Linked DNA regions of Homo sapiens: region 1 is linked to region 2. The links come from fine-mapping of genetic effects on gene expression. A gene starts in region 2. The other region holds a variant in brackets. All regions are shown on one strand. Distances are between the middles of the regions.

What was found.
Region 1: its variant is fine-mapped to the expression of NEBL in monocytes (TOPMed, PIP above 0.99).

The regions. Positions count from the first base shown.
Region 1 is chr10:21,206,352-21,222,183 of GRCh38, forward strand. It overlaps a transcript of NEBL not described here. Among named protein-coding and RNA genes, the nearest start is that of NEBL-AS1, 40 kb to the left of the region's middle. The variant T/C (reference allele first, on the strand shown) is at 6,034.
Region 2 is chr10:20,888,470-20,904,301 of GRCh38, forward strand. It overlaps NEBL (nebulette), which reads right to left and starts at 8,842. Exons shown (of 28, transcript NM_006393.3): 1 at 8,656-8,842; 2 at 8,489-8,560; 3 at 1,376-1,480. The coding sequence starts at 8,736.

The sequences.
Region 1 (15,832 bases), 320 kb after region 2:
CATCTTACAGAACTTGGAATTTAACATGTGCTAGTGAAAATTCAGAAGTCGTTCCTTTTACATGCTTGTCACATGGCCAAAATATTTTTATCTCAAAAATAAGTTGTAGCCATGAATTTAGCCCCCAGGGGCTGAGATCTAACCAGGGGGGTAGAAACTGTGGATTGCTCCTCACCCTCCCTTACTGTAACTGTAATAGGTTCATTGCCTGCCCATTGCTTATGGGAAGTCAACATACCTAGACACTGGGTTGCAGCAGAGAAAAAGTTTTGTAGTAGGGCCACTGAATGAGGAGACAGGAGGAACCTCAAATCTATCTCACCAAGGAGTTTGAGGCTAGGGTTTTCGAGAGTTTGGGAGTGGGCTGAAGTATAGAGATCGTTGACTGGTAGAAGAGTGCCAGAAGAAGTCGTGGGACAGGGAGATGAAGAAGCTGTATTCCCACGCCAATCCCATTCCTCTGTGGGGATTTTCCAGCTGGTTGTCATCAGCTGTTTCACTGGAATTCAGGACCAGAAAAAAACATAACTAAGTAATTCTTAAATAAAAGCCTTACAATTCCAATGTTGGGGATCCTATCTTAAGCAAAAGCCATATTATCATTTTCTTTTTCTTTCTTTTTTTTTTTTTTTTTTTTTTTTAGACAGAGTCTTGCTCTATAGCCCAGGCTAGAGTGCAGTGGTGCAGGCTCGGCTTACTGCAACCTCTGCCTCCCAGGTTCAACTAATTCTTCTGCCTCAGCCTCCTCAGTAGCTGGGATTACACACACCCACTACCACGCCTGGCTAATTTTTGTATTTGTAGTAGAGATGGGGTTTCACCATGTTGGCCATGCTGGTCTCAAACTTCTGACCTCAGGTGATTCACCTGCCTTGGCCTCCCAAAGTGCTGGGATTACAGACGTAAGCCACCACGCCCAGCCAAAAGCCATATAATTCTAATGTCAGACATCCTATCTATAGGAATGATGGGGATGTGAATGGTCTATATCTAGTACTATGTGACTTTCAGTCATAAGGAAGTGAGTCAAAGTACAGCCTGATTAATGCTTAATTATAACAATATTTCTGCCCAGAATTCTTATTAACTCTATAAAGATGGCATCATTGTCCCCTTTCCAACATCCTAACAAAACCCAGATTTGGTTTTTGTATTGACTGTGCACACACACACAGCCTGTTGTCCCCTCCTTTCTCCACCCTACTTTGCCCTAGAAGCCTGACCCTGCTGGACTACATCATGGGCTCTCATGACCTTGAGCTTCTGGTTGGGTTTGGCCAATGGGAGCCCCTGCAGGAGATCATGGAGCAGGGGAAGGGTAAATCCAGGGTAGTTCTTTCCCTGGCTCCCTCCTTACAGACTGGTTGCATCTCTCAGCCTAAGGTCCTAGCACTGGAAAAGCAGCCCTCTACCCACAGACTAGCTATACCTATGGAACATCTGTCTCTAGGTTCTAGAAACCATTCATTTAAAAAGTGGACAGAAGATACAGGGTCCAATGGGGTGAATCTCAGGATTCTTAACTTGGAACGTAGGCCCGAAGCAGTCTCTCTTATGACAGATACTGTTGAATTAGTTGATCCCAAAGAATCCAGCGTCTCAGTGGTGTCACAGGACCAACAGGTTCATATGTCCACTGCACAGTAACAAACCAACTACACTGAGACAGCAGAGTTTGCAGCAGAGAAAGAGTTTAATGATCACAGGGTGCCAAGTGAGGATATGAGAGGAAAACCTCAAATCCATTTCCCTGAGGAGTTCTAGGCTGGGGTTTTTAAGAAGATTGTGGAGGATAAAGGGCTAGGAAATTGGGGTCATTGATTGGTCAAGGTAAGATGGATGAAATCATCAGGACATAGAAATTGCATTCTTTGATGACTCAGCTCATGGGGGTCCTTCAGACCAGCTAACGTCTAGTTTCACTAGTATGCAGGACCTGAAAGAGTATCTCAAAAGGAAAAATTAATGTCTCATAATGTGCAAGTTGTTGTCTTTAGGGCAGTTAAGGGAACTATAATCTTGTAACAGGTTCTAGCAATTCTGAGGCAATAGGTACTGAACAACTACAAGGAAGAGGTCAGACAGCAGGCTGACCTCATGATTAATGCTGAATATGCTAAAACTTGGTTTATTTTTGTTTCTCTCCCTCCCTCCTTCTCTAATTAATTTTATAAAGTTTATAGGGACAGTTTCAGTGGCTGACACAAGGGAAGTTTATTTCTTGCTCATGTTACAGAACAGTGAGGGTCAGCATGAAATGAGAGGGATCTACTTCCAGAAGTCACCATGAACCCAGGCTGCTTTCTTCCAATGTCTCCACTATTCCCTATGGCCCCTGTTCTTGCTGCAGGTGGGGAGAGCACGAGCAAGGAGCAGGCCTGGAAGTCACATACATTCCTTCCACCCACATTCCATGGGCTGGAACTCAGCCCTACAACCCCACTTAACTGCAGGGGCCTGGGAAAACGTAGTCCAACAGCATGGCAGGGAAAAAGAAAACAGAACAGTTTGGTAAACAACCAGCCAGTCTGCACCTCACCCTTCCAGCAAGGAGTAGCTAGATAAGTCAAGACTGCTCCTGGTAGCATGTGATAGGAACTGAACTATGGTGACTCGGCCAAATAAGGGTGCCCTTTGTTTGTTTTTATACAGCAAGGAATCTGGGAGTAGGTAACTCAGAGATGTTTAAGGAATCCGGCTTCTCCTCCCTTCTTTCTCTGCAATCCTTAAAGTATGAATTCTGTCTCCCAGTTGCAAGATGGTGCCAGGTATTCTGCCCAAATTCCAGGCAGGGGAAAGGTGAAAGGGCAAAGTGCAAATGACAAAAGGAATGTGTCTGACAAGTTTAGTCGCTTTTTAAAAAGACTTTTCTGGAAGCCCCCCTCTCATAGGATGGTCTCTTTCATGACTACACTGCCTTAAGAAAACCTAGGGAAGGGTTGCCAGATAAAACACAGGACGTTCGGTTAAATTTGAATTTCAGATAAACAACAAATAATTTTTAGTATAAGTATGTATGTCCCATGCTGGGTATCCTGTTTTTTGTTTGTTTTTGCTAAATCTGGAAAGTCTAGCCTCGGGAGATGTGTATTTTTTCATGGATACATTGCCCCTCTGAAAAAAGTCAAGATTCTGTTGAAAAGAAAGAGAGGAAAATGGACTTCAGGTAGGCAGCTGGAAGTATATGTCCCAGTGACCACAGGACCCAATACGTGCCAATAGCACATAAGCAGAAGTCTGCAGGATGTGTCTTCCAGGAAGTTTCTCCTATCTCCTGATACAATTAGGCACCTGACCTTTTTTTTTTTTCTTTTTTTTTTTTTTCTTTTTTTTACCACAGTTGTGACTCCTGGAGGACCAGGAGCCATCTTGAGATCACGAGGTAACAAACATGAGAACAGAGGCCTACACGTCAAAGATGGAGAAACAGAAAGATAATCAGTGCCTGGGTCCAGAAGGGATTGTTGCCCTGCTGGGGAAGGCTATCCAGGCTGACACTGTCTTTCCTTGCACTCCACGATTATCCTTGTGGAGCCAGGAACTGGTGTCACGCTTGTCAGGATGAGGGACCTTAGAATTAAACCAAGACCAAAAAGAGGATACAGCTGATAGAATTTCCCCAAAACCAGACCCATTTGGTTAAGCTGACCCTAAAGCCCCAATTGCTCAATACCTCCAGTTCCACGAGCCTCAAAATGTCCTTATTGTTTAAGATCATTTGAAGCAAGGTTTCTGTTCCTTGTAGGAAAAACATCATGGGCAGGGCATGGTGGCTCACACCTCTAATCCCAGCACTTTGGGAGGCCAAGACAGGCAGATCACCTGAGGTCAGGAATTTGAGACCAGCCTGGACAACATGGTGAAACCCTGTCTCTACCAAAAATACAAAAAACTTAGCTGGGTGTGGTGGCAGGCGCCTGTAATCCCAGCTACTAGTGAGGCTGAGGCAGGTGAATCACTTGAACCTGAGAGACGGAAGTTGCAGTAAGCCGAGACTGCACCACTGCACTCCAGCCTGGGTGACAAGCAAAATTCTGTCTCAAAAAAAAGAAAGAAAGAAAAACATCCTAACTAAGAAAACCAAACTCTCCAGTCCAATACATATACTTCTAACAGATTTGACATTTATCTCATTATACAAATATGCAGAAAGAAAATTAACATTAGGCAATATAACATTGCTGCCATTTTTAAGGAGGAATATGTATATTTTTACAAACAAAAATTCAAAGCAAAATCATACAATTAAATGTTTGTGTCAAGTATGTTTTTTCCATATCATTCTATGTATCTTGTAAGGCCTGTAAATAGATTAAAATTTTTGTTGTTACTTATTCCCACTGGTTCTGGAGTCATGCACTAAAGTGCTGCATTTTTAAGTTTCAATAATTGGACTCCTGAGACTCACAGAGAGGAGGAACATACGTTAAGATATCATATTCTATTCTCAACATGTGACTGTCATTATCTTCCAACTCAATAATGCTTATAAATGTACACGCTATGTATGAGCTACTGTAAGTCTTTAAAAAACCTGTAGCTTTACATTTACAGCTATCCTAGCCAGTAGGAGTTAATTTTAGCTGGGTTGCACCTATTGTTTCATGCATGCCCTCTAGGTTCTTTGGAAACACTGTAAAATATTATGACCCAAAAACAGAAAACCATGATCCATATCCTCAGTCACGTTTTCTTTGACATGGGCAACATGTCACAGATTCAGTAGGAATAAAGGCCACTCGCAGAAAGAGGAGATAGACTAAGTCTCGATTTGATCATCCTTATCAATGCTATGTAGGAAAGGAAAGGAAAATCCTGGCATGAAAACAATCAAAAATAGTCATTGGCCGAGTGCAACAGCTCATGCCTGTAATCCCAGCACTTTGGGAGGCTGAGGCTGGAAGATCACTTGAGAACAGGAGCTTGAGACTAGCCTGGGCAACATAGGAAGACCGCGTTTCTACAAAAAAATAAGAAAAATTAGCTGGGTGTGGTGGTGCACACCTGTAGTCCCAGCTACTAGGGAGGCTGAGGTGGGAGGATCGCTTGAACTTGGGAGGTGGAGGCTACAGTGAGCTGTGACCTTGCCAGTCTGGGCAACAGAGTGAGACTCTATCACAAAAGAAAAACAAACAAACAAAAAACAAAACAAAACCCTAAGGTTTTTTTTCTCCTGAGTTAGCTGATGTGTGCAGTCAAAAACCCTCTCTCCAGTTAACTGGAGAAAAGACTGGCCCCTTTAAAGATCTTGCTTCCCTGATGAGGAAAGCCAATGAGCTGCCATCTCCTCTTGAACAGAGATGCCAAACCCAGTTACGTCAACTTCAAAAACCCGTCTGAGTCCTTTTGTAAAGGTAAAATTTTGTTGTGACAAATGTTTGTTGTGTCAATGAAGTTGGCCATTGCCAAGGGAGATCCTTTTGTTGGGGAAGGATCCTCAAACCAGCAGTGATTGTGATGATGGAAACGGATCTGTCGTCATGGCTTCATTCATTCTCCAATGGTAATTGGAGAAGCACAGAATTTCTCACTCATGCTGAGGTCAGAAATCTTTCATAAATGACCTACCAAGTTACTATCAAGTGTGTTTGCTCTTATGTAATGCTAGTAAATACATTTCAGGGTTTTAAATCACTCAATTCTCTCTCTCTCTTCAGATATATATATCTATAAACATATGTACATATGTAAATGTTATGCATATATTATTATTACATATTATACAACTATTACACAGTATACATATAATATATACTATGTTAGATACAGTATATATACAGTATTATCGCTACATCTGAGTGACAACACTATATATACTACATATAATACTGTGTACAATATATGTATAATATGTCAGAAAGATAATACAAATATATGATTTATTATGTTACATATAATATACATATATAACAACTTGTAAATGTATATATATCTGTAATGTACAACACAATCTTTTTAATCTTTCAGGAAATTCACTGAAAATTAAACTGACAAACAAAGATTTCCCAATTAGTGCAATCCTGGCCCCAACTT[T/C]CCTTGCAAAGATTTCGAACACCCAGCGCTAACGTCTGGACAGCGCCTACCCCTCCTCAGAGTGATGGGAGGAAAGAAGGAAAGGCAAGCAACGGCTGAAAAGATGGAAGGAATAAACCAACACTCGTCATTTCTCAAGAGTTTGTGAAACTTCCCATTTTCTGTTAAGGAAGTAAATTACAGAAGCTTCGGTGAAAGGGGTGGAATCACCCGGTTCTTCAGCTTTGCTTAGCTTGTTGGATGACCAGGGACATCTTCAGATTTTTGTTACCACACCTGGCTCCTGAGCCAGGTCCTTCAGTGAGTGCTTTCCAAAGGCCCTGTGGCCACTTGCGACTTCCACTGGCTTCTCGTGTTTCGACACTAGTTTTATTTTTGAAATACTTGCCACTTTTCATCATAGGAAATAGCTGGCTTGACTACCGTTCTCACTCCTTTAGCTGCTGTGTCAATACTTCAAAACATTCAGTCAGTTAACTCGATTCAGTCAAAAATTGTCACAATGTTTAGCATTGTGTTGACAAAGCCTATGGCTTTGGAGAAAATACAGCTCATTAAGTTCTTAGTGATTCTTCATGGTGCAGAGCTACACGGTAGCAGCTACAAATGTAACCAGACCACCGTGACAAAACGAAGGCAATGAATTAATATCGGAGTGCTCACCATGTGCCAGGCACCGGTTGGAATTTAGCCATGTCTCATCTCACTTTATCTCACAATAACCCAAGCCCTTCAAGCTGATGGTTGCCCAAAGTTGGATTGAAATGATAGTTTATTATGCCATTTCTGTTTACTCACTAATACTCAAAGAATGCAGAAAAAGATAAGCTTGACAGGCAAATTTCAGTTGATGGTTCAGTTTCCTTGAACTTGTATTTGGTCTTGTTGCAGACTGATTTGACTCCCTTTAAAAAATCAGAATGTAGAGTGTCTGGGTTCCTGTGCCCAGAGAAAGGACATTAGAGAAGATTCAAAACAGATGGAGATGTAGAGCTGGTTGAGTGCAGGCGGAGGAAAACCGGAGAGGAGCGGAGGACGGGGGAAGCTTCAGTCTAAAGAACAGTGTCTATAAAATGCACTTTCAAAACAACACTGTCTGAATGCCTCCTTGTGTGCAAGTTACAGGGCTGACCAAGAGATTTTTAAGTAACCAGGAGAAGACACTAACTTTGCTAATGAATAGCCAGGAAGTGTTAATGAGGCATTCATGAAGATGCTCTCAGGACTTAGCAATGAGAATGTCCCGAGGCAGGGAACCAGGGCAGGAGAAGGCCTGGGGCGACCTGGGCTTGAGGAGTAGAGTAAATAGAGAAAAACCTTAGAAATGGGTTCTATAGCAGCCTTTAGCTATAATGTAAGTGGAGTTTATATCTTAAATAAATTATTCTATTTTTACTGCAAATATTCCTCTCTTAAAAGGACCAACGAATATCTACACATTATATACCTGCTCATCTTCCATGTTCTGTGCCCAGAGGAAGTCCAACAAGCTCGAGACACCACACATCATTTGCGAGGGAAAGGACAAGGTCTTCCTTAAAAGCAATAAACTGTGTCTCCTGGACTTTTATGTAAGTATCGGCTGGTAAAGGGAGTTGTCACAGACAATAGATTTTCCCCACAATTATAAAACTCAGCAGTTTTGTGTCTTGAATGATGATAATACAGACAGATAATTAAATCTTAACTTCTGTCTTAGTCTTCTTCAATTCTCAACAATGAATTGGTAATTTACTCATGAATTTCATGTATATATATGTATATAATATATATGTATAAGTATATGATATAGATGTATATATATCATATATGTATATCATGCACACACACAAAAGGCAAAGAAAAGTGCTTTCTATCTTATGTTTTTTCAAATTAAAAATTTGTATCTTGCACTTATTTTTAGTGGTATCAAATAAAGCATTCTTTGTACTTTCTGAAGATTTATTAAGACACTAGTAAGCCTTTATGCATTTGTGCTAAGGGAAAAAGGAAGAGAGGGAGGAAGGAAAGAAACAAGAAGAGAAGAAAGGAAAAGGATCTCCTCAGTATAACTACCCCATACACACATGGCACACACATGGCACACACATGCACACACACGCGCACATTACACACATGCACACACATGCACACATGCACATTACACACACATACACACATGCACACACATGTGCACACATTACACACACGCACACATGCACATTACACACACATATACACATGCACACACATGCACACATATGCACATTACACACACATGCACACATGCAAGATTGTTGGGTACAGTGAGGAAAGGGTTTTTCAGGTGCTTCTTTTTTAACTGCTAATTCATGGTATTTACAGAAAAGTCAGAAAATATATAGTATGTAAAAAGGGAAAAAATGGAAATCACTTTTAATTGAAGCTCCCAGAATTAATCATTGTCAGTATTTTTGGCTACACTCCTAATATTAGTGTCTTTAAAGAGAATATCCTGTGTTCTTTTAGAAAAGAATAGGAAATAAATTAAAGGACAGGCCCTGCTGTGTCTCTCTGCCCCCATCTCCTGGAATCTAGCTCCCTTTTCCCTGCCGGGGAGGAGCAATAAACTGTGAAGCCCTCCCTGTGCCACCTGCCTCACCCCACCCTGATCCCTCCGACCCCATGAAGAGATGTCAACTTCCACTTGGCCAGAGTTTTAAATCCACAAAACTTGAAGATTAGAGCGAAATAACTAAAATGAACTTTTAGTTTCTGTCTTCTTACCTAACATACAATTTGGTTAGATTTGCACAAATTAGTGGCATGTGGTGGCACGCACCTGCAGTCCCAGCTACTCAGGAGGTAGGGCAGGAGGATTTCTTGAGGCCAGGAGTTTGAGGCTGCAGTGAGCTATGATCACGCCACTGTACTTCAGCCTAGGTGACAGGGCAAGAGCCTATCTCTTTTAAAAAGAGTTTTTAAAAGATCTGCACAAATGAAGAATATGTGTTTGCAATGGGCTGTCTTATTATGGGCATTTCATGGTGCTCATAAAACTCACATTTGGGAGGATTCTCTGTAGCATCTGTATTCAGGGAGCAAATTAAGCAAAACAATACAAACTCATGAATGCAAAATGTAGCACAAAAGTAAATATTCAGAATGAGAAAAGATTTCACAACAAATAACATATCTTTTAAAACTAACAAATACTGCAAGTGCCACAAAAGGCAAAGAAAAAAATATAATCTGTTTATTAACTGGCTGACCCACTACCATAATATTTTCCACAGACTAGTTTTTTTTGTTTTGTTTTGTTTTGTTTTTGTTTTTGAGACAGGGTCTTACTCTGTCATCCAGTCTGGAACGCAGTAGCACAATCACAGCTCACTGCAGCCTCAACCTCCCAGGCTCAGTTGATCCTTCCACCTCAGCCTCTTGAGTAAATGGGACCATAGGCATGTGCCACCATGCTTGACCAGTTTTTGTTTTTGATTTGGTTATTTATAGAGACAGGGTCTTGCCATGTTGCTCAGGCTGGTCTTAAACTCCTGGGCTCAAGTGATCTTCCTGTCTCAGCCTCCCAAAGTGCTGGAATTATAGGCGTGAGCCACCGCACCTGCCCTCCCAAACTAGTTTCCAGCTCTACTTGTTCCTCCTTCACTTCCTACTTCCCAGCAGGGTCAGTATCCTAAGACAGGTTCACATCACAGTTCCGCCCCTGATTCTAGGCCGTCATTCATAATTCCAGTCAAGTTGCCACGGTATGCAGTAGGGTACTGCTGAAACCCATCCTACGTGGGAAAGCCAGCCACGAGTTGTCTACAGAGTGACTCTGAACCACCAGAACACATCCCACTAAACTCTCACTAAATATACACCCCCAACCTGACTTCCCCTTAGCCACATATCCAAGTGCCTGTGGCTACTTCAATGCCACCCAACTCAAGGAGAATTAAGACAAGGAGAAGTCAAAAGGGGAAGACACAGTGGTCCTAACCAGCTGCAATTAAAAGATCACACTTTTTGGCCGGGTGCAGTATCTCATGCCTGTAATCCCAGCACTTTGGGAGGCCCAGGCGGGAAGATCACGAGGTCCGGAGTTCAAGACCAGCCTGGCCAACATGATGAAAACCCATCTCTTGGGCCAGGCGCAGTGGTTCAAGCCTGTAATCCTAGCACTTTGGGAGGGCAAGGTAGGCGGATCATGAGGTCAGGAGTTCGATACCAGCCTGGCCAACACAGTGAAACCCTGTCTCTACTAAAGACACAAAAATTAGCTGGGCATGGTGGCACACACCTGTAGACCCAGCTTCTTGGGAGGCTGAGGCAGAAGAATTGCTTGAACCCAGGAGATGGAGGTTGTGGTGAGCCGAGATCGCACCACTGCACTCTAGGCTGGGCAACAAAGCAAGACTCCATCTCGAAAAAAAAAAAAGAAAAAGAAAAAAGAAAAGAAACACGAAAACCCATCACTACTAAATATACAAAAATTAGCCGGGTGTGGTGGCACGTGCCTGTAATCCCAGCTACTTGGGAGGCTGAGGCAGGAGAATCGCTTGAACCCAGAAGGTGGAGGTTGCAGTGAGCCAAGATCGCGCCACTGCACTCCAGCCTGGGAGACAGAGCAAGACTCAGTCTCGAAGAAAAAAAAAAATCATACTTTTGCTAATTTTACTAAACTACTACCATAGGAACACAATACCCCTGGGAAGGGGCTCTGCACTGAGGGGACCTGATGTGAGTGTCGTTAGCTTCAAGGTAAGTCCACCTCTGCACGCACAGTTGTTGGGGAAGACTTCTTCAGCAGCACCCAGAGAAGCTGGCATCCCCCCAAAATCTAAAACAGATGAGAGGGTAGTTATCAGGTTAAGTATACAGAATTTACTTAAGAGGTCATGGAGAGGAATCCAGAAGTTTCCTCCAAATTGAGCCACAGCCAGAGACAGAGAAAGCAAAACAATCATGAGCCCAAGTCACAAGGGACAGTGCTCCAAATTACAGGCATAGACTTGCCAAGGAGCTGCTTCTCACAGGGGAAACTCTATCTGGTTTGTTTCGGAGTGGGGAGCAGCAGCTATTTATTTATTTAAAGGTGGTGAACAGCTCTCCCAAATATTGCCAGGTGGCCAGCAAGTTCTAAATACGACTGGCTTCCAATAATTTGAAAACTTTAACATTGATAGCATCTGCTGTTGAGAAAAAAAAGTGTAGGCTTTGGGTGCCACACAACTGTGGATTCAAATCCAGGCTCTGCTAGTTACTAGCTATATGACCCTAGATAAGATACTTCGCTGCTTGGAATCTTGGTCTTCTCACCTGCAAATGGGTTTAACAATATTTACTCTATAGTATTACTTGAAGATTCATGGTATTTGTGACAATTCTGCCACAAATGAAATTTTCATCAAATAGTAGTCATTATTATAAAGCTGTATTTTCCATTTATTTTGGCTTGGCACAAAGATGATTCAAACCTCATCTGCAATTTGTGCATTTCCATCTGGCAGCAACCAACAAGTCAGCTAAGATGGCGACTTACTCTAAGGGTGCAACCTACAGCAAGCCTGTCCATCACAGTACTAGCCAGCTAAAGTTTGTTACAAGCTTTCAGTCTGCTGCGGAGGGACAAGCTGGACATCATTTGGGGCTCTGAGAGTCTTGAGTTCTGACCTGGTCGGTGAGCTAGTGTACGAATATTCCACATACAAATTCTTTGGCCTCATGGATACTTTTCATAAAGCTACCGGAAGAAATCCTGACACCCAGGCAATCACCAAGCCAGGCCACAAGTACAGGGACAGATATGGGCTGCTATCTGTAGGCGCAAGAGCCTTGGCCCTGGAAAGGGCCACTCATCCCAACATCCTGTGGCGATCGTCACCAGGCAGGTGGGAAAAGACACAACACTCCCCAGCCCCACCGTTACCATCGATAAAAGTAATGTTTGCAAAATGCATACCTAACAATTTAGGACAGTTCAGGTCTGCTTGATAGTGTTCTTTAATTTGCCTGTTTAAACCATTCTACAGATAGTTTCATGACTGTCAGATTACAAAAGTTACAATGCAATGATATTTGAAGACTCTATGTGATGGTGTGTCTTCTTTCTCATAAGATAAAATTTTTTTATCTTTGCTTTATCTTATAAAGGAGTTATATATCAGACATGCTGTGTGGTATAATAGATGTAAAATAAATTATTTAAAAGAGGAAAAAATGCAGGAGTGTTGAGGAGGAAAAACTTTTCCTCTGCCCATGGAACACAAAAGTTCCATGACTTGGGTCCTTCACATTTAACTGATAAAAGACAGATTAAACAGGAGAAATGGAATACACAATTTATCGATATCTACATGCACTGGGAGGTCACAGAAAAGAAGGAGAACCCAAGGAAGTGATCAGACTTGGGGACACATGCCATTGTAACAAAGGAAAAAGGGTTTGGGCTTCAAGGGAAAATAAATTGCAGCAAAGTGAGTAGGAACTATATGGAGAAAGCTAACGGGAGATAAGGGTTATTTTCGTAAAATCTGTTTATGCACATTCATTTTGCTGACCCTCCAACTTCCTGGTACATTTGCTCTCCTCTTCCTGGTACAGGACAGGGGAAACCTTCACAGACGGAACCTTATGCCCTGCTTTTAGGCAGAAAAGAGGAGAGAAGAGAATGCTTCCTATTTGATTCTCATTGCCTTCAGCTCAAAATAATCCTCATGCCACAGTGGCATATTTTGGGATGGCATACCCCAATCCCCTGCAGGAGCATGTGGTCAGGCCAAGACATCAGCCTTTGATTTGTTATAAATGAAAACTTTCTAAAAATGTGAGTTGGGTGTGTGTTTGATGTGTATTTGGTTTAGGAATAAAGTGAGAAAAGGTATTAATTATAAGTAATAAATGAAATTAAAAATGTATTTTTTATAAGTGAGGGCTATATAAATTACAAAGTAGTCAGGACTGACTTAAAGCCTAGAATTTCTGCTACTAAAATGTATATTTCGGAGGCTAAAACCAACCTATTGACATTCAAGAGTATTGAAGCAAATGTAAATGTGTCTGTACTCCTAGACTCTATTACCATTTTTTTCCTCAAATAAGCTCATTTTGGCATTTAAAAAACAACTGATATTTTTACTCCAGTAGCATGCTGTTTTGATTACTATAACTTTGTGGAACATTTTGAAATGAAGTAGTGTGATGCCTGTAGCCCAAGACTGCTTTGACTATTCCTGGTCTTTTATGGTTTCATATGAATTCTAGGACTGTTTTTTTCTAATGCTATCAGAATTTTGATAGAGATTGCATTGAATCTATAGATCGATTTGAGTAGTATATGTATTTTGACAATATTAATTCTGCCAATTCATGAACATAGGATGTTTTTTCACTTATTTGTGTTCTCTTCAACTACCTTTATCAATATTTTACAGTTTCCAGTGTACAGATGTTTCACCTTGGTTTAATTTATTCCTCAATTTTTTGTGCTATTGTAAATGAGATTATTTTCTTGGGTTTTTTTTTTTTTTTGGAAAGTTCATTGTTAGTGTATACAAATGCTATTAATTTTTGTTTGTTTGTTTGTTTAGACAGAGTATTGCTTTGTTGCCCAGGCTGGAGTACCATGGGACGATCTCGGCTCACTGCAACCTCCACCTCCCAGTTCAAGCAATTCTCCTACCTCAGCCTCCCAAGTAGCTGGGATTACAGGCACCCACCACCATGCCTGGCTAATTTTTGTATTTTTAGTAGAGGCAGGATTTCACCATGTTGGCCAGGCTGGTCTCGAACTCCTGACCTCAAGTGATCCGCCCATCTTGGCCTCCCGAAGTGCTGGGATTACAGGCATGAGCCACCATGCCCGGCGTGATTTTTGTATGTTGATTTTGTATCCTGCAACTTTACTGAATTCATTTATTAGTTCTAACAGCTTGCATCTGGCATAAAAACAGACATATAGACCAATGTAACAGAGCAGAGAGCTCACAGATAAATCCACACTATTATGATCAATTGATCTTTGACAAAAGTACCAAGAACATACAATAGGGAAAGGACAATCTTGACAATAAATGGTGTTAAGGAAACTAGATATCCACATGCAGAAGAGTGAAATTGGACTTTTATCTCCCACCATATACAAAAATCAACTCAAAATTAATTAAGGGCTTAAATGTAAGATCAGACACTATAATGCTACTAGAAGAAAACTTAGGGGAAAAGCTCCATGACATTGATCTGGACAATGATTTTCTGGATGTTACCCCAAAAGCAGAGGCAACAAAAGCAAAAATAGGCAAATGGGATTGCATCAAACTAAAAAGGTTCTGCACAGCAAAGGAAACAATCAACAGAGTGAAGAGATAACCTATGGAATGGGAGAAAATAATCTGCAAATCATACATCAGATAAGAAGTTAATATTCAAGATATATAAGGAACTCAACCAATTCAATATCAACAAAACAAATAACCTAATTTTAAAATGGACAAAGGACCTGAATAGATTCTTCTCAAAACAAGACATACAGTTGGGCATGGCGGCTCATGCCAGTAATCCCAGCGCTTTGGGAGGCCGAGGCAGGAGGATTACTTGAGCCAGGAGTCCCAGACCAGCCTGGGTAACACAGCAAGACTCCATGTCTACAAAAAATTTTAAAAATTAGCCAGGCGTAGTGGCATGCACCTGGAGTCCCAGTAGTCAGGAGCTGAGGTGGGAGGATTGCTTGAGCCCAGGAGTTGGAAGCTTCAGAGAGCTATAACCACACCACTGCACTCCAGCCTGGGTGACAGGGAGAGACTCTACCTCAAAAAACATATTTAAAAATAACTACATGAAGTGATGGATAGGTTAATTAGCTTGACTCATGCATTTCACAATGTATACATATATAAAAATATCACGTTGTACACTGTAAATATATACAACTTTTATTTGTCAATTGTACCTTAACAAAGCTGAGGGATGGGGATTTAAAAATAAAGAATAAAAAAATAACTGACACAAATGTGCGAGGCTACTCTGATGAGAGCTAAGCCCCTGCAGTCACAGCATGCTAAACTATCATTCAATGAGACACACGTAAGTCAGCCTTCATCTTCTCAGTGCATTCTTTCAAGTCCTACCTATTCTACAAGAAAAACAGATGTCTGATTTCTTTCTTTCTTTCTTTTTTTTTTGACAGAGGCTTGCTTTGTTGCCCAGGCTGGAGTGCACTGGCCCGATCTCGGCTCACTGCAAGCTCTACCTCCCAGGCTCAAGCGAGTCTCCTGCCTCAGCCTCCTGAGTAGCTGGGACTACAAGCACATGCCACCACACCCAGCTAATGTTTGTATTTTTAGCAGAGACAGGGTTTCACCACGTTGGCCAGGCTGGTCTTGAACTCCTGACCTCAAGTGATCCGCCCGCCTTGACCTCTCAGAGTGCCAGGATTACAGGCATGATTTCTTTTCACTTAAAAATAAAAACTTTTTAGCAAGTTACATCAGGGAAATTAAGAAAGTCCTGGCTTCTGTCCTCTCTCATTCATCTTTGTATTGTTCCTTTTTACATAAACACTGAGACCTAGGTGCCCATCCTGACTGCATGGCGTTGAGTGATGAAAGATGAGACCCCCTAGAAGGAGGTAGTGAGGCTCTGAGCAAGCCCGTTCTCTTTGGTGCCCCCGAGAACCAAATGGGAGCCTGTCATTGGGCTGCAGTGAACTCTGCCATGTTCATTTCAACAGGTTTTATACCACTATCTCATTTTGAAGTTTATATTTTGAAATTATGGTATACCCAAAATGAAGAGGTGCTTTCAAAAAGTTTAGTGATTTGGACTGGGCACGGTGGCTCAC
Region 2 (15,832 bases):
AAGTAAATCTATTTGTGTATATTGACAGTTTCATGCTGGATGAGTGAGCAAACAATTCGAGTTGTTCCAGAAAATGCAAGTCGTTAGAATCTACTATCTAGAACTTGACAAAGGACAGTGTTCTTTTATTCAGGTCTTCTCAGCCTCCTCCTGCTCCAGGGGGAGAGGGGAGTGAGTGCTTTTTTGTTGTTTATGTGCCTACCCACCTCTAGCCTGCACTGTCTTTAAGCCATCTCAGTCACTACTCTAAAGACAAACACTCTTTCCTCTTGGGAAAACTAAGGTTCAAGGGAACACAATAGATTGCTCACTTCCAATATTTTGCTCTGCAATTAACTCCTTCAGGAAACATAATCAATAATTGAGAACATCAAGTATTTATCTGCACGGGAGAATGGAACATAGCTAAGACAAACAAACTATGTTCTTCCATTATCTGCAGATGAGTTCCTGATGTTCTTCCTGCTCAGAGCTAGATTTCAGTATTGATTTATTGAGCACAGATCCTGTGCTAGCCTTCTGCTACCACACTCTTTGGATTTTGGTACTTAATGAAAGAAAACGTACTGATTTCATTCAAAATTGTTTCGCATTAGCAGAAATAATCCCAAGGACATCCAGTTGATCTTTTTCCAACATAATTTATGAAACACTAGAGGTCAGTCATTTACAACACTATTTCATTTCCGTTTCTTTTCAAACGTATCTCTTCTAAGTGATCTATTCACAGACTACAGTAATGCCTCACCACAGAAATCATCATCGTTAACATTGTGCTTTACAATGCAACATAAACTGTAGTTCTAAATGCTCTCAGAAAGAAACTACATAATTTTTCAGCTGGAAAATGAATATAGCGTATTCCTCAGTCTGTGATTTTATAATAGGTATCACTGTTGAACTGAACTTTATCCTACTCCAAAATAGTTTAAATACATTTAAAATTATTTATCAAAGATATCACATTTTAGAAAACTGGTAAATCTTATTTATTTCCAAAATGATATTCAATCATTTATCTCTGATATATCTATTAGGAAACAAAATAATGGAACTTCTAAAGTGAACTATTGTGCCAGTGCTTTTACTTATTTAATAAAAAGATGCCTTTTCAAGAGGAATCGTATATAAATAAGAAAGATTTAGAGTCAAAATATAGACATATATAATAAAATGTATGAAGCATACATAGTAAAATCTGTCAATCTATATGAGTTAAATGACAGCGCATCACATTAGATAATTATGTAGCTATTACTAACATTCAGTAGTGCTTTTGAAAATATTATTCTTCATCTCTTTAATGCACAGACTTTCATCTATATAATAAGAAAAAGATAAATGCAAGCCAGTTTGCAAGCTTTTGATACCTTACCTCAGAAATAAAAGCACCGATATTTTTTACATGGTTTAGCATAGGACTGTCAGTCACAAATGTACACTTATCCTTGGACTTTTTAAACTCTTCTTTATAACGGATCTAAAAAAGAGAATGATTTACATAAGAAGAGAAAAAGAAAAACAATTCTAATGGCCTTTTTTGAATGATAATTAGGTTGATAAAGTCCATTTACTGAAGTAAATACTCAAGTGTGAAAGGGACCTCAAAACAAGCCAAGTTAAATAAACGGCTATCCAGCACAGGATTGCAAAGATGATGAGGCATAGTGAGGAAAGACCATTCTTTAGATAAGCGAGGGTCCAGTTAAGCATCAACACCAGGCGTGCTGGCTACGGGTGATGGGTCCTGTTTACCCAGCCAGCCCAGTGCAATTAGCAAGCATGTGCCATCTCGCTCCTACAAGTGTCCTGGTGTTTTGTTGCTTTTAAGCCTTGACACATAAGCCTTTGGCCAAACAGAAACACAGCTGCCTACCTCAAGGTAGAAAATAAGTAGTCAGCATGACAGATGTGACCAATTAAGAAGTAGAGGCGAAATTAAATGGGGATCACTATTACCGTTATTACCTAGACATGCTTGATTAGAGGAAGAGGCTTAAATTGTGGCCAACGTGGGCTTCCTGTTACTAATTCCTCCCAATTTATGAGCACCCATAGGCTTCCCAATCCTCCTCCTGAGCGCAGAGAAGAACTGAACCTGCCCAGAAAGCTTGCTATGTGGTGGAGATCATTCCAGAAGGCCTTCTTGCTGGAGATCAGCAAGACAAAGCCCAGTGAGGCTTAGCTAAACCTGCTCATCTCTTCTCTGCAACTCACAAGTCAAATGACTCACTCTCTTCCCCTTTGGGGATAGGCCAGAATTGTTATGCCGGGGGAAGACCCGGGTGGATATTTGAGCCCAAAAGAAGTCAGGAAATGTGGAGAAGGACCTAAAGTATAATCACACTGTCACACTAATTGCTGCACAATCTGGAAACTGGGAAGGCAAAACTATGACTCATTGAGAAGATGCAGGTAATTTGCTAAAAGTTGTATCACTCTGTAATATGCTCGTGTTTATCCTCCCAAGACCATAAATACTTAAACTGAAAAAGTGTTCCTGTTTCAGATGATAAATTATATGTTCTCCCTAATTATAACCCAAAAGTGGAGCTGAATTGTATATACTACCTGGTTCTTAGAGGATGTGAATAATATTGATGTTATACACTAATGGTACATGGAGATTTTCCCATATGCAAGCCTGATTTGACGGGCATTACTTAACCTGTGGTAGAACTAGATACAGATTAAGTGAAGTTATTTCAAAATCCCATATTTCACTGCTGTGACTCTTGGATATCAGATGCCTACCACATTAAACATTTGCTTTATTCATGAAATCAACACGAGAACATATTTATCTTATCTGAGCACTAAATTACTTTTTTTTCTTCTCAGAGATTAGCCATAATTTTAGGTTCCTGCAAATCACCCTCCTCAGCCACTAGTAATTAAACTGTTAATGGCAGTATGATAAATAGTAGGCTATTTTGATCATATGGAGAAAAAAGTATCTCCGTTATATAATTAAGTGTGAGAGAAAATAGCCTATCATTAGGCTTAAGTTTGACTCATTATTTTTATCTTTTGCCACCATCTATTCCCCATCACATTCACATTCTTCACTGCAGTGGTATGTGCTTGTGGCTACAGCCTCCTGATAAAGTCTGACACATGCAGAACGTTCAGGACAGGAGGACTGGATAAGGGTGAGGTATTTACTTCTTCTGTTAGGCAGACAAATAGCTCAGTCTTAATTGTAGACTCTATTTTTTTTTCTTGGGTCTTTATTAAAAAGATACACATATTTGTATATTTTAAATGAAGGTGTATTTAAAATTTAAGATCCTTTACAATTGTACAATTCAAGAGAAATTGTACAATTTGTTAGAAGTCACACACAATCATGTGTGATTTCAAGTGAATTGTGCAATATGAATGACAATAAGCAAAGAATGTTAGATTTTTAAATACATAAGGAATATTTATATAAATATTAGATACATATTAGTAGCCTTCCTACACCAAGATAACAGGAAATGATCATTGAAAGGGAACTATATTGGTCAATGAAACAAATCTTAGGTAAAATAAAAATCACTGAATAGATTGCTATATTTTATTACAGCCATGTCTACATCTTACAATTTCGGGTTGACACCATCTATTGGATAGACTGGCCACTCCCATTATCTCCTATTAAAAGAGCCCAGATGGATTAATGAGAGCAGCCAGGCTCCTGCCCAGCCCCAGAGGACAAGCTGATCTAAACCAGGCATGGTCATGCCATCCAGTGTTTGGCCTGGGGAGCCACACTCTCTGTGACTTTAGTGGAAATCTTCCCAGAAGTGCTTCTAGTGTTTCTGGTACAAAGGGAGAGATGCTGCACAACCCTGTGACATTCTGTCTTCCACATTTTTCTTTCTCAATCAAAGGGAAGGCAGCAGCAATGATGTCATTACCAAGGAATAAGCCACCATACTAATGACGACAGAATAGAAGGAAAGGAGCCTGGGAGACTGATAACACCCATAGTACCCAGCCTGAACTACCTACCTCCGGGCTTTATATGTGGAGGCTGGGGAAACAAAAACCTACTTGTTAAGCCATTGTGTTAGAGTTTTCCTGTTTTTACAGTCATCTGCACTCCTACCGAATACACAACCCAACACCAAAAGACAAAAAGGGCAAAATTGATGACTTTATGATCATTAAGATGTCCCAAACATTGACCTTCTCTTTTGCCCTCACCCACAAATCCCACGTCTCCATTACAATTAGGATGAATTTAGTGCAGGGTCGCTTCCTCCTCCTGGCCAAGTTTGTTTGAATGAGTATGAGATTAGCTAAAGGCTGAAATCGGATGACAGACATGGAGATGTTTGCGGATCTTTCCTTTCACAAGAATTCTTAACTGAAAGTATCTGGAAAGGCTCTTCACAAGTGAAATCATACAAGTTAAATTCAATACACCCTGGAAGGAAAAACAATGGCTCCATCATTATTTAACTGGGCTGGACATAGCTAAGATCACTCTCCCAGGTTTTCTGATACCATCTAAGCTTTCTCTGGAGGAGTAACCACAGAATTTAATGTTTTTGGCATTGAAAGGATTTACCCACAACAACGTTCATTTGCCTGGAAAATATTCTTCCTGCTGCCATGCAGATGAACACCCTAAACAGCCTTGAACTAAACACTGAGAGGCTGCATGCAGATGTGGTCCACCTGCTCTGCAGAAGGCTCTTTCTGCCTAATCTACAAGAAACATACAAAAGATTCCCTTTTGCCCAATCTTTTTTATGACTCCCCATCAGAAGACTACTAGATCCAGGATTCTGAATGCTCAATAGAGAGGATAGGTTTAACTTATTCAAGGGATTGATTAGATAATGTTAGGTTAGACTAACAGGAATAAATATGACAGAGAGAATATCTGTGAAAATATATCTGAGAAAATAATAGTATTATGTGATTAACAGAAAAATAAAAGAGGCTGCCTCAGAAGACCAGCTGTTCTTCAAGACTGGGAAGTGAGTTGTGCAAAGAGGAACCCCATAATGTGGGTAGAGCAAGTGCAAAGCAGAAACTAGGTGGGGGGAGAAAGAGAAAGAAAGAAAAATGCCTTATACTGATGCCCAAAGTGAAGCCACTTGACCTGAAAAACGGACATTTCTCTCTATGGAGAATTCTAAGCAGTGCAGGCTTCCTAGGGCTGATCTCTAGGCCAATCTTGCTTAACATTTCTATAAAATTGTCTGACAAGGGGATGATATAGCAGTGTCTACAGGTCTGCTGACTCCAAGCTGTCTCAGTAAGGGAAACGGCAAACTGAGATGAACTTCAGAAGTTCTCAAAGGGCCAGGCAAGAGGGCAGAAAACTACAGATTAGATCTAGCCCTAGTGTGGTTAAAATAATTCAAACTATTATTTAAAGATGATGGGTCCTAAGCTATCAGCTACAGGTCAGAAATTAGGAATGAAATGGCTCTGATGGTCTACAGATTATCAAGCTGATCTAACAGCTTTCTGCAGCTCCCAAGTCTAAGAAACTCTTCATAGCATCATAAAGGGTGCTAGAAGCTAAGCAAAACATCATCCTGCTCTACACGTGATCTAGACCGTCCACATCTGTACCACTCTGCACAGTTCTGATTATTACATATTGGTTATTAAGGATATATGAAAGCTGGAAGAAGTCCAAAGAGTAACAATTAGGCTGCACCATGAAGAGAAGTCCATGAAACCATCCCTCTCATCTACAGAAACGAAGCAGGGCCAGCCCGGTGGCTCACACCTGTAATCCCAGCACTCTGGGAGAACGATGCAGGAGAATCACTTAAAGCCAAGAGCTTGAGACCAGCCTGGGCAACATAGTGAGACTCCATCTCTACGAAAAAGAAAATGAAAATTAGCCAGGCATGGTAGCACACACCTGTAGTCCTAGCCACTTGGAAGGCTAAGGCTGGAGAATCACTTGAGCCCAGGAAATTGAGACTGCAGTGAGCTGCAGTCACATGACAGAACTCCAGCCTGGGCAACAGAGTGAGACTCTGTCCAGAAAAATAAAAAAGAAGAAGGAAGGAAGGAAAAAAAGGAAGAAAGAAAAGAAGAGAAAAAGGAAAAAAATCTAAAAATTAAATAAGTATCTTAGCAAGTATAGAATTCTATTCGGAAGCAAAATGTGAATGTGTATACAGATATAAATTAAGCCAGAATAGGCCGGGCATGGTGGCTCACGCCTGTAATCCCAGCACTTTGGGAGGCCGAGGCGGGCAGATCACGAGGTCTGGAGATCGAGTCCATCCTAACTAACACGGTGAAACCCCGTCTCTACTAAAAAAAAAAAAAAAAAAATACAAAAAAATTAGCCGGGCTTAGTGGCAGGCGCCTGTGGTCCCGGCTACTCGGGTGGCTGAGGCAGGAGAATGGCGTGAACCCAGGAGGCGGAGCTTGCAGTGAGCCGAGATCGTGCCACTGCCCTCCAGCCTGGGTGATAGAGCGAGACTCTGTCTAAAAAAAAAAAAAAAAAAAAAAATTAAGGCAGAATAATCATGTCCTAAATTTAAGTAGTACATTCTACCATGCCACAAAAATCTGTAATAAACAGAAAGTATGCCTATCTGTTTCATTTTACCTACGTGGGTGTGAAATGTATGGATTTAGCTTTTGCATAATGATAAAGGCCACCACCCCTCACAACATGTTGGTTTTAAAGTCACTGATAGACAATCTTATCCAAAACAACTCCAACCAAATCACCTACTAACTACAGTTACCACTTTAGTCCTGATGGTTTATGTAACACAAGTTAGCTCAGCTATAATTGCACTTCAATAAAAATATATCAAAGCTGGAAGAGGTTAGGAACTCAGGGTTTTAGTTGGTAGCATTACTACTAATAATAGTAACATAATAATAATAAGGCGAAGAACAACATTTCATGGAAATCTACAGGGAGAGATAACTTGGCAGTGTAAAGAGGGAGGCCTCTGTGTTCAACTATTACTGCCTCTGCTTAACTGTGTGACCCAGGCAAGGTACTGAACCTCTCTGTGCCTCTATCTCCTCGCTTCAGAAATGAGAAAAAGCCTAGCGCCTACCTCGCAAGCTGCAATCCCTGGCACACAATAGTCACTAAATCTTAACTGTTGCCAATAGTGTTATTGTTGTTGTTGTTGTCATTGTCACTTATTATTACTGCAATTTACAGAGAACTTTCACATACAATAGCTAATGACTATTAAGTAATAGCACAAAGAAATACTTAATTTAAAGGGTAATTACATCACATGTCAAGTATATGGGAAAGGGTATGATTTCCACCAGCATCCTTTGTGCTTGCCTTCTGGTTTGTCAGAAAGAGCCAGTCATATCTAAATTGTGATTGGATGGATGTAAAAGGAAGTAACAGACAGAGTAGTTAATAACAGCTAACATTTATGGAGTACTCACAATGTTCCAGATAGTTTATTCAGCATTTATATGCATTACCATTATTTAATCTTATTATAAATGTTACAGCTGAGGGATGGAGCCAAGCCAGGTTCCATAACCTTCCCAAGGTTACTGGGGAGTCAACCCAGGCAGGTTGACTTTGGAGGATGTGCCAGACCACTACCCTCCTGCCCAGGACTGACTTCCGTTAGAAAACAAACGTGCAAAACATTCTGATCATTTTGCTTATTATCAACAACAGAAACAACCAGTATTGTGCTCATCTCTCTAAATGAAGACACAGGCACATATTCACTTTACAGGAGTTACCCTTTCTCTGGACCAGCAATCCTCTTAGAACCGCTAATGAGGATCATCTAAATTCTCATCCCTGGTGAGCAACATTTTTCCTTGTACTTCTTGAATTCTAGCTTACATATTTAACATAAAATTATATGTTCAATCATTCAATAATTCTGGGATTCCCTTAAAGTGTAATATCAACCAATCCCAGTTACTAAAAAATGTCACAACAAAAATACCCCTTGCACTAATATCCTTGCACTAATATCAGGGTTCTTAGCAAGCAGGTCAGTAATCAACAAATCCTGAATTGTAAATAAATATTATATGCATATATATATATATATATATATATATATATATATGCATTTTCCTGTTCTGGAAGACAAGTCCATTCATTAGATTGTTCAGAAGGCCCCAAAATGTTAAAAAAATGACTATTCATTTAGATAGAGGGCCTCCCAAGACAAATTACATCATTATATTCATTTTAAAATCTTTGGGGGTTCTCAAATGGAATAAATACTGCAATTCAATGCCTTATGATTTCATGCCAGCGTGACAGCAAAACTCATAAGGGACAGGATTCTGGATTAAGAATGAGGAGACTTGCTCTAGCAGAAATTCTCTGTATAGGTGACCTTGGGGAAATCACTGAAAATTTCAGGACTTTGTTCCATGATCTGGAAAGTGACTGTGTTTTAAAAGGTGATTTCAGGGTTTCCCCCACAGCTCTATGACTCTATAACATAATAATACCACAGGTGCAATGCAAAATAAGACAAAAATTACTCCAGCCACTTACATCGCTAATGAGTTCCGTGCATTTTCTGGCCAATTCCATGCTTAAGTCTTCAATAACAGGCTTATAGAAGACCTATTTGAAAAAAAAGAAAAGAACAGAAAGAACATTTTTCTCATTGTCAATTTAGAGGAACAAACGCTGGTCTGAGTATGTGTTTTCTCACTCACCTGGTCTTCTTCATTTTCTTCTTCCCCTATCTTTTCTTCTTCAGTTTCATCTTTTATATCCTCAAATACAGGGACCCTCATTTTTACCCTTTAAAATATTTATATTTTTAAAATTTACTCATGTGGCGTCCTTTTCCATACCACAGTGCCCTTGAGATGCTGACGTCTCTGGTGCTCTGGCAGAAATGCCCTTGCCCAAGCCTCAGCCCTATTTAGCCCACACTTCACTCCTTATCTCAGTGGTGTGTGAGTGAACAGAAAAGGATCCCAGAGGTCTACCAGGCTGGCCTCACAAGTGGAAATAACATATTCTTAAGCAAAATTTGATTTTATGAACTTTTAAAGTCAACATTTTTTCCACTGGTTAAGAAATCCAAAAGAAAAAATTTATTTATCTTTTACTAATTCTATTCATTCATAAAAGAGCATAAAAAGGACTTAGAGATTCTGGGAAAACTACTCAGCTCTAACACTCAAGATAGCACAGTCCAAAGCCTGTTATCTCAAAGATTCCTTGTCTCTGTCTAAATAAAGCTTTCACTGGAATGTCAGACTTCCTTCTGACTTGGGGTAGTGAATCTGGATCATTCAAACTCATTTTGTCAACCTAAATTATATGTTTTATCAGACATACCAGTACTTCTCACATCCTAAAAAATACCCACTTTATATTAGCTGATTAGAGGCTACTTATTTATTATGAAAAGCCCTTTGAACCACTTCAAAGAATCTATTCTGAGTTAATTATGACTGTTAGTATTATACTGGCGAGTATGGTATTGTATTAATTGTAAACATCATTAAACATGAGAAGTTGCAGTTAACATATGTTGATACATAATTTAACAATTCTGGAAACATCGTTTCAAAAATCATCATCATCATCTTTGAATTCTGCAGTTCTACTCATCATGTCAATTTTTACAAAGTCATTGGTGATTTGCATTATTACTCAATGGGCACCCCACATTCAGAAAAGTTTGGAAAAATAAACCATCACAATATTTATAATGTAGTGTATGTCCTTGGTTACGTAAAACCAAGGTTAAAAAAAAATTTCTCAAAACAAATATTTTAATGTCAATTCAGGCAATTCCAAGACTCCCTACAACTCACAATTTATTAATCTGGTTATGTAAATCCTAGGGTAAATTAATTTTACCAAGTCATAGCACATTAGCATTGGGCATAAAAAATACCCTACACTGAATAGTAATACTGATGATACAAAATACAAATTTATTAAAAATAGTATGTCATTCTAAGTAGCCAAGCATAATTTTTTCTCTTGATATCATATCTAGTTTTCAATGTACTGTAAAAAAAAAATGCCTTGGCCTTACCTAAACTGAAAATCCTGACAAGAAAAACATTCTACACAGTCATCACGTATAAATTATTTCTGAAATTGTGTTCCATGAGGCAAAAGTTCCACAAAAGATTCTGGGGGAAAAAAGCAGGTTTCTTAAACAAATATGTTTGGGAAATCTGTACCCCAGTCTCTGTCCCTGCCACTTAGAGATCTACAAGGCATATTGACATACTAGAAGTTCTGAGAAGACCTTCAACCAAAAAACCTGCTTAGGCTTGCTTAACCTCGTGTTCCCCTGAACACAAACCTGTTTATCTCATCAAATCTAATCCAATTTAATCTAATCTACCTACCTACCTATCTACCTATCTTTTTTTTAATCATACCCACTACCCCAGAAAACTAACACTCCTCTGTGAAATATGACCGACTGCTTAGGGAAACATTGCTCTATTCTCCTAAAATGTTGTGTTCTAGAAGGAGCTGTTGGTCTTGAACTAGTTTTTGATACAGGCTAAATTAATGGTATCACATATCCTGTTCACCAACAAAATACCAAAAAGAAATTGCCTCAAGCATGCTGAACTTGGAAACCACAACTCTAAGATTACAGCCATATCATGCTGGCCCAGTGTAGTGGATTCCACAAGGACATTCCTTGTATATTTTATTTGTTCCGTAAAAGGAAAGAATGTGTGCATTCCAATTATTTCCCTCAAGTCCTCTGCTGGCCAGAAGACTATTCTAATATTCTATAGATCTATTACATTATCTTTATTTGGAAATAGGGAGGAGTAATTTCTGTAAACTTGTCTTGCAAATTTCTAGGAGTGTAGGGAGAAAATCTTGCCAAAACTGCCTGAGACACACCTTTTGGCTCATATTTGAGGAGACAGTACTGGTGTTACTCAGGGTGACACCTATTCCCCAAGGTGAATTACCTTCATCAGGCTTGCAGTGCAGTTATTTCTCATTTCCCATCACGTAATATGTTCTTAGGGACTCTTCACTGTGCTGCAAGAAAATAAGCTGTTGAGATTTAATGCACAAACTTTTGAAAACAAAAACCAAACACCACGTGCAATGTGAACACAAATTTTCCATTTGAGATTCTAGAATCAGAATTTCAAGCCAAAGGGATCCTTAAGAAATCAATACACCTAAAGCCCTCTCTTTCACAGATGACAAAATGAAGGCTATGAAAAATTATGTGTCTCATTTACAAAGCCATTCAATGAAGCACTAGGATCAGAACCTAACTAGAGACCTGTGTTCATTTGTTCAACAAATAAATGTTGTTATGCCAGGCACTGTGCTTGGTGTTAGAGATAGAATGGTGAATAAAATATTCTTCATACTAAGATAGAATTGGAAATAAAATACTCATCACTCAACACTTGCTGGATGAAGTCTTTAATGGATCGTTTGGCAAGCTAGAGACACCATTACTTTTGATTGAATACATCTTTTTTCCTCTCACCTATAATATAAAATTCATGCAAAGTTTTCTCTAAAAAAGTGTTAAGCCCTGCACTTCATCACAGCAAAGTTTTCTTGTCAGTAGCTCTAAAATATGACATGGAGAATATGAAGAAAGTGTTCCTCATGGACAGCTATCATGTTTCAAAATCCCCTATCGACTTTTCCAAAAACCAAGCTTAATGTATTTTAATAGATATTTTCACCTTGGGTTGCTCCAAAAGGCAAAATCTCTGTAGCTGCTCATAGCTTTTACTTATTGGGCACTTCTTTTATGTTGTTTACTTTTCTACTTTAGTACTCTACGCATGCCTTGATACAGAATGAGACCAAGAGACATCACTTATGGCTAAACTCTCAAAGTCCAGGTCTGGCTCTGCCATGTCCTCTAGGGCAAATTATTCAACCCCTCACTACCTCTAATTCTTCATAGTTAAACAGAAAAACTGAGTTGACAGAAGTTAATAAAAAGAAAGCACTGGCTGGGTGCGCAGTGGCACACGCCTGTAATCCCAGCACTTTGGGAGGCTGAGGCAGGCAGATCACAAGGTCAGGAGTTCGAGACCAGCCTGACCAACATGGTCAAACCCCGTCTCTAGTAAAAATAGAAAAATTAGCCGGGCATGGGCTGGGTGCGGTGGTTCACGCCTGTAATCCTAGCACTTCGGGAGGCCAAGGCAGGTGGATTGCTTGAGCTCAGGAGTTCGAGACCAGCCTAGGCAACATGGTGAAACCCCATCTCTACTAAAATACAAAAAAAAAAAAAAAATTAGCCGAGTGTGATGGCAGTAGATGGGATTACGCCTGTAATCCCAGCTACTAGGGAGGCTGAGACAGAAGAATCGCTTGAACTTGGGAGGCGTAGGTTGCAGTGAGCCAAGATCCTGCCACTGCACTCCAGCCTAGGTGACAGAGTGAGACTCCATCCCGAAAAAAAAAGAAAAAAGAAAAAAATTAGCCGGGCATGGTGGCACACACCTGTAATCTCAGCTACTCAGGAGGCCGAGGCAGGAGAATCACTTGACCCGGGAGGCGGAGGTTGCAGTGAGCCAAGATCGCGCCACTGCACTCCAGCCTGGGTGACAGAGCGAGACTCCCTCTTAAAAAAAATAAAAAGAAAAAGCACCTTAAAAATAGTGGAGCCCCTCACAAACACAAGCTTTTTTTCAACCACCAATAAAGGTACACAGTGATGTGAAAAACATTTGGCATGAAAAGGTCTTCTCATTCTCTGTGCCATTAATATCCTTTTAAAGTCAAGAAGGGCCTTCTGCAACTAGACAGCTTAAAGATAAGAGCTCACTTGCTTATTTATAATTCAGAAGTCTTCTGATCTTTTGATAGCTTGATGTTTACACGTAAGCAAATGTATTTCCTTAGCAACTGTCAGGTGGGTAATTCAAGTCTCAGAGACACAGCCGTGGCCAAGGGAACGTATCTGTGCCACCATCTGGAGTCGTGCAGTGCACAACTGTCTTCACCTTCCTTGAGGTCGCCTATGACAAGACTTTCTTGGTTTTTGACTGTTTCACACTTATTTCACTTTTTTCTCCTTTTTTTCATAATGATAGAACATGTACTTTTCCTCAACATGGTGATACATGATTTAAAAATAAAAATTTATAATAAACAATTAAAACAGATCCAAATTCAGTTCTGAGTGGGGGGAAAAAAGTACAGAGATAAACTGCTTTTCTTTTAACTTTAAAAATGAATTCAACATTTCTTATTATAAAATATTCATTCCAAATGGTTAGGTGAAAGAAGAATTTGTTTGCCTGATTTGTTTCCCTGCCATGATGGTTTTTTCACACTCATTTTTTGTTGCCTGGTTTTTGTTTTGATGACCGTCTTCCGGAAGGTTCCTGCTTCTCAGTTGAATCCCTAGTCATTCCATCTTTGCCTCACCTATTTACTCAGTAACTGGTATCTTCCCAGAACAGAACTTTACTGATGGACGAGGCAAGATAAATCATTTCTTGAAAGAAGAAATGTAAGCACTCTAGGACAATTTGTCTCCTTTATAAAAGAGAAGAGTTTTGCTTAATATTGGTCCAATCAACTTTTACAATTTAGAATTCATGAACATATTTTCTCCTTTTTAATAGCTATTTCATTACTCTTTAATAATCAGAAATCGAAAGAACACAAAGCAACCTAAACATGTGTCACCATGACCAAGTATGCTATTAAGATTTAATAAGGTGGCCGGGCGCGGTGGCTCACGCTTGTAATCCCAGCACTTTGGGAGACCGAGACAGGCGGATCATGAGGTCAGGAGATCGAGATCATCCTGGCTAACACTGTGAAACCCCGTCTCTACTAAACAAAATACAAAAAATTAGCTGGGCATGGTGGCGGGTGCCTGTAGTCCCAGCTACTCGGGAGGCTGAGGCAGGAGAATGGCGTGAACCTGGGAGGCAGAGCTTGCAGTGAGCCAAGATCGCACCACTGCACTCCAGCCTGGGCAACAGAGCAAAGACACTGTCTCAAAAAAAAAAAAATTTAATAAGGTATATTCCATATGTATATTCCCCTTTTCACAGATGTAGATCCCACTCACAAATGAGAGCTACATAGTTAGATGGATGTTGGAGGAAGTGAAAAACAAGAAACTGGAAATAGTATGGGGCACAACAATTTCCAGGTTGGGTGTGGTGGGGAAGCCCAAATTAAAACGATGTACTCTGCTTATAGAGGGGGCAGGAAAGTATTCTCAATGTCTACATTAACATAGCGCCCATTGAGCTGAAAGTCTTCGGTTTCATTTACAGCTTGAGACATTAGTTCAGTTTTCATAGCAATTAAGCTAATACCATGATCACTCCCGCAATCTTCACCACCAAGAGGAAGAAACCTAAGCTCTTCTTGGTCTGTATGTGGCTTATACCCAGAACCAAAGGGTCAGGCAGGATCAAACAGCTTGACTCCCACAGAGTGTCCCTTTCCTAGAGTTTTATGTGAGATGTGTCAGGAATAATTGTGAAAGACTTTGAAATGGGCACATAGAAAACAAATTACTGAGTGTTCCCTTCAGGACTATACTGTTCTTTCATTATCTTTGAACTACTTCACGATTCCATAAACTGTTGAAAACTGATAAGAATGAGAATGATTCTTATCCATAGAAATGCAAATTATAGTAGCCCCCAGACCTTATCCATAGAGGATGTGTTCCAAGCCCCCCAATAGAAGCCTGAAAGTGCAGATAGTATCAAACTCTATACATATTATGTTTTTCCTATACATACATACCTATGATAAAGTTTAATTTATAAACTAGGATAGTAATGGCATGAAAAGACATTTCTCAAAAGAAGATATACAAATGGCTCACATATGAAAAAAATGCTCAATATCACTAATCATCAGATAAATGCAAATTAAAACCACAATAAGATACGGCCTTACCCTGGTCAGAATGGCTATTACTAAAAAGTCAAAAAACAATAGATATTGGTGTGAATGTGGTGAAAAGGGAACACTTATACACTGCTGGTGGGAATGTAAATGAGTAAAACCTCTACGGGAGACAATATGAAGCTTTTTTAAAGAACTAAAAGTAGAGCTACCATAGGATTCAGCAATCCCACTACTGGGTATCTACCCAAAAGAAAAGAAGTCCTTATATCAAAAAGACATCTGCATGTGTTATGTTTCTCACAGCACAATTCGCAATGGCAAGGATACGGAACCAGACTCACTGGACATCAACCAATAACTGGATAAAGAAAATGTGGTATGCATACACCACGGAATACAACTCAGGCAGAAAAAGAACAAAATAACGTATTTTGTAGCAACTGGGATGGAGATGGAGGCCATTATTCTAAGTGAAGTAACTCAGGAATGAAAAACCAAATACTGCATGTTGTCTGTCACTCATAAGTGGCAGCTAAGCTACTGGTATGCAAAGGCACATAGAGTACTGTAACGGCCAATGGAGACTCAGAAGGGAGAAGGGTAAGGGATTAAAATCTACGGATTGGGAACAATTACACTACTCAAGTGACAAGTGCACTAAAATCTCAGACATCAACATGATAAAATTCATCCATATAACCAAAAACCACTTGTACCCCCAAAAACCATCGAAATAAAAATAAATTTTAAGATGTCATAGCAAGAGAACAACTAGTAATAAAATAGAATAATTATAACAAAATGCTATAATAAAAGTTATGTGCATGTGTTCTCTTTCTCTCTCAAAGTATCTTCTGCTGTACTGACCTATTTCCAGACCTTAGTAACTGAAACCTCAGAAAGGAAAACCATAGATAAGGGAGCATTACTGTAGCTGTGTTCTTGGGAAGGCAATTGAGTACTGTCCATGAGACAGACCCTTTTTGCACCTATTTGTAAATGCATTTCAGCATTCCTTACTAT